Linked DNA regions of Homo sapiens. The protein of the gene in region 1 interacts with the protein of each later gene in a pairwise test. Each region holds a gene or a part of one and is shown on either strand. Other genes may lie near its edges.

Region 1 (4,029 bases):
GGAACCCTGTTTCTACTAAAAAATACAAAAATTAGGCCGGGCACGGTGGCTCATGCCTGTAATCCCAACACTTTGGGAGGCCAAGGCAGGAGGATCACGAGGTCAGGAGTTCGAGACCAGCCTGGCCAATATGGTGAAACCCTGTCTCTACTAAAAATACAAAAATTAGCCGGGCATGGTCGTGGGTGCCTGTAATCCCAGCTACTTGGGAGGCTGAGGCAAGAAGAATCACTTGAACCCAGGAGGTGGAGGTTGCAGTGAGCCCAGATCGCACCACTGCACCCCAGCCTGGGCGACAGAGCGAGACTCCGTCTCAAAAAAAAAAAAAAAGAAAGAAAGAAAGAAAAAAAGAAAAGAAAAGCTTTTCTAGGTTGGAAAAGGGAATGGAGGGAATTTCAAGGGGTGGGACCCTCAGGGGCAGAGACCCAGAGGTGGGAAAGAACAGAGAATTTGCTGTGAATGGTTTTTGAGAAGGGATGACTTGAAAGCTGAGGCCTGAGGGGAACAGGGAGGGCCAAGCAGGAAGGGGCCGCGGCCATGGCTGTGTTTGGGCAGCAGAGTCCGTGCCAGGAGGTGGGGAGGCTATCGGAAGGCTGTTGGTGAGAAAGGAGAAAATATGCAAAGCAGATGTCAACATGGCTCAAAAGCAGAAATGGTCTGAGGCAGGGTGTTGAAGACACTGGACTCGCAAAAGCAGCTTGTGCTCTGATGTTCATCTTGGCCTCCCTGTCCCCGAGGCTTCCGGATCAGCCTCCTTTATGTACTGGCCTCCAGAAACACTGTGTTTAGAATTGACTGTGTCATTTCCACCCTGCATCTTACAGTTACAGACATGGAGGCTCTGGGAGGCAGGGAAATGACTTGTCCAAGGTCACATAGCCAGTCAAAAAAGGCAGGACACAAACCCTGCGTCCCAGACCTGTTCGTCCCCCTACAACCACTTAGGGGTTGGTGGGCAATTCGTACTAGAGTATAATTGACTGATAGATGCTGTTAACACAAAGTAGCCCTTTTGCCTTTTTTTTTTTCCCGCTCTGTCGCCCAGGCTAGAGTGCAATGGCATGATCTCGGCTCACTGCAACCTTCACCTCCCGGGTTCAAGTGATTCTCCTGCCTCCTGCCTCAGCCTCCCGAGTAGCTGGGATTACAGGCGCCCACCATCACACCCGGCTAATTTTAGTAGAGACGGGGTTTTGCCATGTTGGCCAGGCTGGTCTTGAACTCCTGACCTCAGGTGATCTGCCCACCTTGGCCTCTCAAAGTGCTGGGATTATAGGCGTGAGCCACCGCACCTGGCCCAGTGGCCCTTTTTACAAGAGGAGCTGGGTTGGAATTAGAATGTTCAGGAGGCAGGAAAATTCTCTGGAGGTCTTGCTGACCATAACAAATATTCCTAAGTAGCTACCTGCTCCTTGACCAATTCTATAGATGCAGAAACTGAGGCTCAGAGACTTGCTTTTATATATGAGGGCCACAAAGTCAGTTGCTTCAGTGGTGAAAACATTTCCCATCGGAAGGAGCACAGAGTGTGGGTGCAGCCACTTGTGTGCATGTGACTGACGTGGCCAGAGCTTCCGATTTTTCAAGAGGAAACAAAAATTTAGATTTTAATGTAATAATGAACAGCTACCTCAATTTCTGTTTTTTTTGAGACGGGGTCTCCCTCTGTCATCCAGGCTGCAGTGCAGTGGTGTGATAACGGCTCACTGTAGGCTCGACCTCCTGGGCTCAAGCGGTCCTCCCACCTCAGCCTCCCGAGGAGATGGGACTCCAGGCACACGTCACCACGCCTGAATAATTTTTTAATTTTTTGTAGAGATGGGGTCTCACCCTGTTGCTCAGGATGGTCTCAAACTCCTGGCCTCAAGCAGACCTTCTGCCTTGGCCTCCCAAAGTGCTGGGATTACAGGCATGAGTCACCGCGCCTGGCCGCTATCTCATTTTTAAGGAAGGAAAAAGGGTTCAGGGTCCTCAGACCGCAGCGTTACACCCACAGAACCTTCCCTAAATCACTGCCCTCCCGCAGCCTCCTCAGAGAGAGGTGGGGTTGGCTAGGAGTCAGAACGCTAGCCCGTGCCAGTTTCCCCATATGTAAATATTCGGGGTGGACTGAGCCACTCTGAAGCTTTCTTTTTTTTTTTCCTTCTGAGATAGAGTCTTGCTCTGTCTCCCAGGCTGAAGTGCAATGGCACGATCTCGGCTCACTACAACCTCTACCTCCTGGGTTCAAGTGATTCTCCTGCCTCAGACTCCCGAGTAGCTGGGACTACAGGCCTGTGCCACCATGCCTGGATAATTTTTGTATTTTTAGTAGAGACGAGGTTTCATCATGTTGTCCAGGCTGGTCTTGAACTCATGATCTCAGGTGATCCACCCACCTCAGCCTCCCAAAGTGCTGGATTACAGGCGTGAGTCAGAGCACCTGGCCCACTCTGGACTTTCTCAAAGCTCATGTGCCTGTCCCCTGAGTCCTCCCCCTCCCACACTTACCCCTGGTCTGTCTGTCCCCCCAGGGCTCACCCTTCAGAGGACAATGACTTTTACATCAACTACAAGGACATCGACCTGGCTTCCCAGCCTGTCTACTGTAACCTGCAGTCACTGGGCCAGGCCCCAATGGATGAAGAGGAGTACGTGATCCCCGGGCACTGAGCCTAAGATGTCCTAACCTCCACCCAGAACCCCTTCAGTCCCTGCTGGGTGACTCAGGGCGTCCTAACGCCTCCATGGCCTCAGTTTCCCCATCTGAAGAATGGGTACAGGAAAGGATTGTCCTTGAGGCCCCAGGAAGCTCTGCCGCCCCCTCCCTGTCCCTCATGCCGCTCCTCAGCTCCCTCAGCTCCTAGAGGGGGAAGAGGAGAGACCCCCAACAAGGGGACAGGACGGTCACTGTGCCAATCCTGTCATCACCCTCCTGTGGATGTACAGGCAGTGCTCAATAAATGCTTCGAGGCTGATGAGGCTGCTGGCTCAGGGTGCGTGGGTTCCTCAAGGTGGGGATTTCTGAGTTCTAAGACCAAGTCTCCATCTGAGACTCCCAAATTGCTCCCCACCTCCCATCCCTGTTTTTTTTTGTTGTTGTTGTTTGTTTGTTTGTTTTTGAAACTGAGTGTCACTCTGTCACCCAGGCTGGAGTGCAATGCTGCGGTCTCAGCTCACTGCAACCTCCGCCTCCTGGGTTCAAGTGATTCTCCTGCCTCAGCCTCCTGAGTAGCTGGGATTACAGCACCCGCCACCATGCCGAGCTAATTTTTGTATTTATAATAGAGATGGGGTTTCGCCATGTTGGCCAGGCTGGTCTCGAACTCCTGACCTCAAGCGATCTGCCCGCCTCGGCCTCCTGAAGTGCTGGGATTACAGGCGTGGCCACTGCGCCCAGGCACATTCCTCCCTTCTGCCCCTCTCAGGGCCCCTTCCCAGGTCCCTGATCTCCAGGCTTGGCCTCCAGAGCAGCCCACACCAACCCCAAAATAAAAAAATGTATATATTCCTTTAGCTCTAATATTCTGAGAAAATCTTTCAAGACCCTGGTGCAATGCCACCTCCTTTGAGAAGCTGTCCCTGGTTTCTTCTCAGGCAGAGTTAATGACTCACAGATGTCTGTATTTCAAGAGTTTTTTCAGGCTCATGCCTCAACTGGGTTTCCTATCAGCTGGTCCCAGCCCAATCCTCCAACCTGGGGGAGATAGAACTAGAGACAAGTACCCTCAGTCCTGGGAGATCAAGCCTGGGCCAAAGGGAAGAATGGGAGCACAGTCCCCACATGGAGACAATTGAATGAGTTTGAATAAGGCTGCATGTAAGAGGGGAATCTGCAGTGGGTTTTGAAGGATGCATAGGAGTTTGAGAATTGGAGAGGAAAGGGCATGCTGGCTGGGTGGACCAACTTGTGCAAGAGCCTGGAGAAGCACAGAGAAGGCACAGGCCCAGCCCTATACCTTGCAAAGGCAACAGCTGTTGTTTGGGGAAAGACTCAGTGACACCATCTGCTGCCTTTTGGTATTGAGTTTAATTTTGAAGCCTCCTAGG
Region 2 (7,043 bases), on another chromosome or scaffold:
CACAGCAAGGCCTATGGGGCTGGGCAGCCCTCCTGGATGCCCAGGCTGGTGCAGGCTTTCCAAAGACGACCTTCATCCAGAGTGATTAAAGAGCATGTGGCCTCCTGAGAGCAAAGGGGCCCAGAATGTAGTTTCCTGACATTGCTTGGAGATGCTCACGTGCATGATTATTCATTTGGGAACAAATGGAGAATGATCTCCATGCTGGGAATACTGACTTCGTCCGGGGCATCCCAGAGGGATCCTCTGTTTTAGGGCCAGTTTAGTATGGGCTGAGGAATCAAATAAAAGATATAGTATCTTTTTCTCCACACTCTTTGGCTCCTGGGGCAAATAAACCTTAGGGCAGACACACAGAACTGGATTATTGCTGTTGAAAACAGGCAAGGATTGAGGTTTTTTATGATTTGAGAGGCAGGCTGTTGAAACAGCCCTTGGTTTCTCTTCCCACTTGAGGAAGCTGGAGCTTGGTTCAATCAGAGGGAGTCAGGAGACTGAATTGAAAAATCAGGAAACCAACTCTGGTTCTGGGTCATTTCATTGACTTTCACGGTAAGAGCAACAAGTTATCTACCTGAGAATGGTCATCATCTAGTATATGATTATTAAAAATAATAATGACCGGCCAGGCATGGTGGCTCATGCCTGCAATCCCAGCACTTTGGGAGGCCAAAGCAGGTGGATCACGAGGTCAGGAGTTCAAGATCAGCCTGGTCAATATAGTGAAACCCCCATCTCTACTAAAAATACAAAAATTAGCCGGGCATGGTGGCACATGCCTGCAGTACCAGCTACTCGGGAGGCTGAGGCAGGAGAATCACTTGAACCTGGGAGGTGGAGGTTGCAGTGAGCCAAGATCGTGCTACTGCACTCCAGCTTGGGTGACAGAGCAAGACTCTATCTCAGAAAAAATAATAATGATAATAATGATCACAACACAATAACAATAGTGGTGTCTTCTTTTGCTGGAGGCTTCTTCACTTTTGAGAGCACTGTCATTCATAGTACATCCTGTGTCCCTGGCTGGTAGGTATGGCATTTTACAGATGGGTAAAATAAGACTCAGCATGGGTAGCTGCTTTTCTAAATAGCACACAGTTGAGTATTATGTAACTGTAGGAATTTATATAATGCTTTGAGACACTGGGCTAATATATTGAGACTTATGGGATTACAGCTGTAAAGCTTGTTGTCTGAGTCGACAGGGGCATTCAGAGATGGGTAGAGACTCTGAGTCTCACAGCTTCTACTGTCTTCAAGATAAACTCAGTGCCAGGAGCTTCCCTGTGGCTTCCATAGCTGTGACTTTTAAAGTGTTTGGTCCCAGGCATGCTGACACCAGCCCCTCAGAAAACCTATGCCCTTGGAATGCATGATGAGAGCCAGGAGCAGACGGATCTCCAACAACAGGGGCGCTTGCTGCCTCTTCATCTCCCTCATCTTCTCCCTTCCCCTGGTCTTAAGGAATCCCTTTTCTCCACCAGGAGCATTATTCCCTTGCTTCAACTCCAAGCATCCCCTTCCTACTTCTTTTCCTTTAGGGGTAAGAAGAATCTCTCCCACAACCCCTGATGCCCCTCTCCACCACAGTAGTAAAAATAAGACAGGACTTGGCACACGATTCTATTGTTTTCATAATCTATAAAGGGTACCAATCAGCTGCAGGTCATTGATGGGATAAAACAGCAAACAAATGGATACATGAATGAATGAGAGGATACATAACTAGAAATAAAATATTTAGAATGCAGACAAGTAAAATTCCTGGAAAAACAAGATTGTGGACAATGGCTTACAGCTGAGCTGAGCATGGCATATACTGCTCTGTTGGGTGGAGGGCACATGTGTGCAGGGATGGAAACCTGCTAGAAGGTTCTTGCACCAGCCTGGAGAGGAGGTCCAGGGGCAGGATAAATAAAAAGGAAGGAACAAATGCAAGTGGCTGTGAAGAAGCAAGATTTGGAAACAGACTTACATGGAGACTGATGAGAAGAAGGAGTCAGAGATGGTATGGTTAGTAGAAGTTGGAAATTTAGGAGATAAAGTTTGCAGGTACTGATAGGAATGTGAATTTCAGCACAAAGTGGTTGTGGGATATCCAGGTGGAAATGTTTGCCAGCAAATGAAAATTGACTATTAGCATCTGGGTAGGAAGTCAGGACAGGTGGAATACAGTTAGCGTTTACACAGTCCTTACCGGTTATCATTAATGTCCTTTAATAGGGGCCCTTTGAGGTGGCCTTGTTAAGGAGCCACCCCAGACCAGTGACTTCCATCTCTCTATGCTTTTGCTTTCACTGTTCCACTTCTAGGATGCCGACCTCTGGTTCCCATAAGTGATTAGGTTTTACTCGCCCTTTCCAACTTCCCTTTGATCACAAACCTTCCATGATCCCCCTGGTTGGAATGAATTGCAGTCTTTCAGTAATCCCACAATACTTATATTGAGATTTAGGATTTATGACTCTAGAAAGCAGGGTAATAATACATGGCAATTCAATAGGCTGTGGCTTGCATGAAATAGTTTCTCCATTTGTTGAAAGAATGAGATTGGCACCATTCAACAGCTTCTCTTATTAAAAAAAAAAAAGTGTTTTCCAAAGCTAAGGGATGACTCAGGGTCATGGGGCTGTGGTGAGCGCTTGCATCAGCATCTCTGTATTTTGCTTAGAAGCTTTAGGGGTGGTCCTTATATAACAGACACTCTCAGAGTTGGGAGGGAACGCCTGGTCTGACTGCCCACACAAATGAATGAGCATTATGCCTGCCTGGTGGTTATTCAGCCCCTGCCCGAGCATGTCCGGTGACAGGGAGCTGTGTCCTGCCGGCCTCGATGGCTTGTTAAGGAAGGGCTGAGTGGATGGTTGGGGGAGGATAAACAGTGAAGAGCACAACTTTGCTTTTCCCATTGATTACTCAGTCTGGGGCTTGCTGATGGTATCATATGAGATAGGTTAAATCATGCTATGGCAAAACAACAACAACAACAACAACACTCAACTCTTGGCAGCTTAAAACAACACAAGTTTCTTTACTGCTCACACTCTAGTCCATCATGAGTTGCCTGGGGGCCTCTTTCCTTACTTGTGGCTTCAGGATGATGGAGTACCCACCATCCTAAATGCTTTTTGCTTTGTCAGAGGAAAAGGAAAAGAGACTCTGGAGAATTTTGTATCAGCCGTTAAGTGGTCTGGCCTTCTCTCCACATCACTTCTGCCCACAGCCCATCAGCAGCCCCAACCCCTGAGAGCTGGAAAATGAGACCTTACCACCTTCCAGAAGGCTGAGTGCTGGGTGTGAGTGGAGGCAGCCATAATGGCTATGGTGCAGGCCTCATGCAAATGGCCTGGCTGATTTCCATTTGGTCTAGAAGGAAGAGGTTCCTTACCTCTTCCACATCATTGTGACAAGAAGCAGCTGGTGAAGTAGGCAAGGATCAGTGTGTGTATCAAAAGGTCACTGTCACTCCTAAAAGTCTCTGGATTAATTGGAGGAGCCTCTTCTACTTGTAAGGATCCTGTTCAGTGTTCTAGGCATAAGAGGTCATCTAGAGAAGCCACCTGAAATGGCAGAATAAATTCTTCAGCTTTTTTCCCAACCTCCAAAAGGCTGGAGACCTCCGTGACTAGCTGGCCTGCATTAAGCAGTTTTCCTCTACGTGGAGACAGTGATGAATCCTCCCTGCTTGGAAGGTTGCAGCCTCCACAATAAATCAAGCCCCAAAGAGAGAAGAAGCAGTGGTGATTAAGAGTGGGACCTGAAATCCAAACTGTAATCAGTCAGAGATTTGTCATTGGAATTGGAGATGGAGATGGAGAAATAATGGATGATTCAGGCCCACGGTGGCTGTCTCTAAACATGTTAATTGCCTCAGCTTAAGTGGCTGAAACTGATGATTAGAAAATGTAGAGATGTGCATAGCAGAACTCACAGCCACTGCCTCCCGGGGCTGGCGCACCCAGCTCTGAGAAAGTGGGCTTTCTCTTTGAATGGGAGGGGGTAGGGTGATGCCTTGGCTGGGGGTAGATAGGATTGGTTATCACAGCTCTGAGGTCCTATAAGGAGATACAATAGGGACATGGCGTGCCCCCTCCTGCCAGGTGGTTGAGATTCACAGGGGCTGGTGGTACCTGCTTCACCCACCAAGGGTCACCACCTCTGGAATGATGGCTCCTTTGCTCTGATTCCTCAGGTGATTGCCTGAGAAGTCTAAGGTGAGGGTTAATGCAATTCATCTACACTGGACTTTGAGAATAAAGAAGGTGCCCCATAGTTACAAAATGTCTTACACGTGTGCTGTGCATGTCTTTATTTTTAATGTGTGCGTATGTGTTTCTCCCTCTGTGTCTGCCATCTGGGGTAGTTAGCTCATCTAACTAAATTGAGAGACCAAAGTCATGGTCCATACCCAAATGGGATGGTTTGAGGGAGTTTGTTCTCCACCCAAAGAAATCTTAGTTTGTAACCACAGGCTGCATATCTAATGCCAGCCAGCCATGTTGTAAACATATGCACTTGGTCATTTCAATGCACTTTACCACGTATTTGTTAAGTCTCTCCTAACTGCCATGCATTGTACAAAGGCGCTTTGCAAATGGAAATGAGAAAAGAATAGACGTTGGCTAAGATGGCTTGCAGAATGCTGGACAGAGGAATCTATCTGTATTGGAAGGTGGGAAGAGGATGATGACTCCACAATGGATAGATTATGGAAAGTACCCCTGGGAGGGGGTCAGAAAACATGCTGTGGGGCCCAGAGGTACAGGGGAGGGTGGAGGAACAAGGGACGGTAGGCAGAGCTCCCAATAGAAAGTGTCATTTGAGGCTGGGGACGGTGGCTCGTACCTGTAATCGCAGCACTTTGGGAGGCCGAGGTGGGCAGATCACCTCAGGTCAGGAGTTCAAGACCAATCTAGCCAACATGGTGAAACCCCCTTTCTACTGAAAAATATGAAAATTAGCTGGGCGTGGTAGCAGGCGCCTGTAATGCCAGCTACTTGGGAGGCTGAGGCAGGAGAATTGCTTGAACCCAGGAGGCAGAGGTTAGAGTGAGCCAAGATCACGCCACTGTACTCCAGCCTGGGCAACAGAGTAAGACTATGTCTCCAAAAAAAAAAAAAAAAAAAAAAAGGTAAGTGGCATTTGAGATGGGCCTTGAAGGATGTTTCAAAAGATTTTGATGGGAAGAACAAAGTATTCATGAGAGCCTAAACAATACAAAGTATATTTATATATTATATAAATAAATATATTTAGTAATATGTATCTATATCTCCCTATATAACTGGGTAAAATGGTGCATTTATATCTGTAGCCTTCCCTACTGCTGGTCTAGGTGCCAAATTTCTTCCTTACAGTTACCCTTTAGCTTACAACTTTGATTTCTGATAAAATGAAGTTACCCTTGGGAGCAGCTTTTCAATGATTTTAAGCTCCTTTTACCCATTTATACCTGTGTGGCTGGATTGGAGGTGGGAGAGCTTAGTCTTCCTGCTGGTCACACTTCCCACCATCAGGCCTTTCTTGGTCAGGATCAGTTTCTTCCCTCTTCCCCCAGAGGCTACACTGTCCCTCTTCATCATTGCTAATTGTTGTTTTTCTCGCGTTCCTCTTGCTCCATCCACCATCAGGCAAAATGCCACTGCCTTCTGAGGCTGGCCATTTTTTCCTGACCCTCCTATATTTGTGATAAATGTACATATTCACTTTAGGTTTGTGAGTTACTATAGGAGGATACACAGGGGCCAGAAAAACAAGAGCAGGGCAGTTATGGATTCATTAGAAACCCTTGCAGTATTTCTCCTAGTGGTCCTGCCTTGGGTCAGATGACACATGGGCTGGACCAGCTCTTCCAGTCTTCCCAGTGGCCATCCATGGGTGACCCCTAGGAGCAAGCGTGGTATTCTGTTAATAGTAAGCAGTGCACTGAGGGCTTGTGTCATTTGGGTTTGGGTATAATAAAAAGAGGAGTGCCATAAAAAGAAGAACTTACCAGAAATGGATCTGTGTTGGGGCAGTGGCTCTACGTTGCTGCAGGGAGGGCCTTTGTGTCAACCGTCTGTGAGAGGCAGTGTCCAGGCAGAAGTCAGCTGCCATAGAAGCAGGAGTGGCGTTTTCCTCCTCTAACTCAGGGCCGTGTCTCTGCTCCCTCTTCAGCTGGTGCTGCCAGAATACTCCATCCATAGCCTCTTCTGCATTATGTTCCTGTGTGCGCAAGAGTGGCTCACGCTGGGGCTGAATGTCCCTCTACTTTTCTATCACTTCTGGAGGTAAGTCAGACTGGGACTGGTATATCCTTCGTCTTTTCTGCCAGGGCAGCCTGCTCTCCAGTGATGATGTCACCCAAATAGACAGCTTCTATTGCCTTCCAATCATCCCTTCCTTTCTGGGTCTCTCTCTTTAAAGCCTGTTCCCAAACTGCTCTTAGGCAACAAGTCCAATAAGGAAAGGCCCTTTTTGTTGGTTTCATTAACCACAACCCCATCCCTTGTAGGTCAGTGTTAAAAGCATCTATAGTTGCATTCACAACAGCCAAAGAGTGGAACCAACCCAAATGCCCATCAGCTGATAAATGGAGAAACAAAATATGGTATATCCATACAATGGAATACTATTTGTCAATAAAAAGAAATGAAGTACTGATACATGCTACAACATGAAGCCCTAAAGAAAGTATCAGTGAAAAAAGCCAGACACAAAAGGCCACATATTTCATGATTCTATTTATAGGAAATGTCCAGGAAAGGCAAATCTATAGACAGAAAGTAAATTCATGGCTGCCAGGGGCTGGGAGGGAATGAGAATAGGGAATGACTGCTAATGGGTCAAAGGTTTTCTTTTTAGGGTGATGAAAATGTTCTGAAATTAGATAGTCATGATGGTTGCACAACTCTATGAATATACTAAAAACCACTGAATTGTACAGTTGTACACTTTAAAAGGGTGACTTTTATGGTATGTAAATTATATCTTAATAAAAAAAAAAGCACCTACCAGATGGGCTGGATTTTCTGGGACAGTTATAATTTCATAGATTCTATTCC

What was found.
Region 2: the proteins of LRRC25 (region 1) and CNIH3 interact in binary tests that used the Homo sapiens proteins (3 or more experiments, as listed by UniProt).

The regions. Positions count from the first base shown.
Region 1 is NC_000019.10:18,390,610-18,394,638, reverse strand, and holds the end of LRRC25 (leucine-rich repeat-containing protein 25 precursor), read left to right. Parts: intron 1-2,513; coding exon 2,514-2,652; 3' UTR 2,653-3,502; downstream 3,503-4,029. UniProt on the Homo sapiens protein: Plays a role in the inhibition of RLR-mediated type I interferon signaling pathway by targeting RIGI for autophagic degradation.
Region 2 is NC_000001.11:224,724,306-224,731,348, forward strand, and holds part of CNIH3 (protein cornichon homolog 3), read left to right. Parts: intron 1-1,618; exon of another isoform or gene 1,619-3,560; intron 3,561-5,992; exon of another isoform or gene 5,993-6,156; coding exon 6,157-6,269; exon of another isoform or gene 6,270-6,287; intron 6,288-7,043. UniProt on the Homo sapiens protein: Regulates the trafficking and gating properties of AMPA-selective glutamate receptors (AMPARs).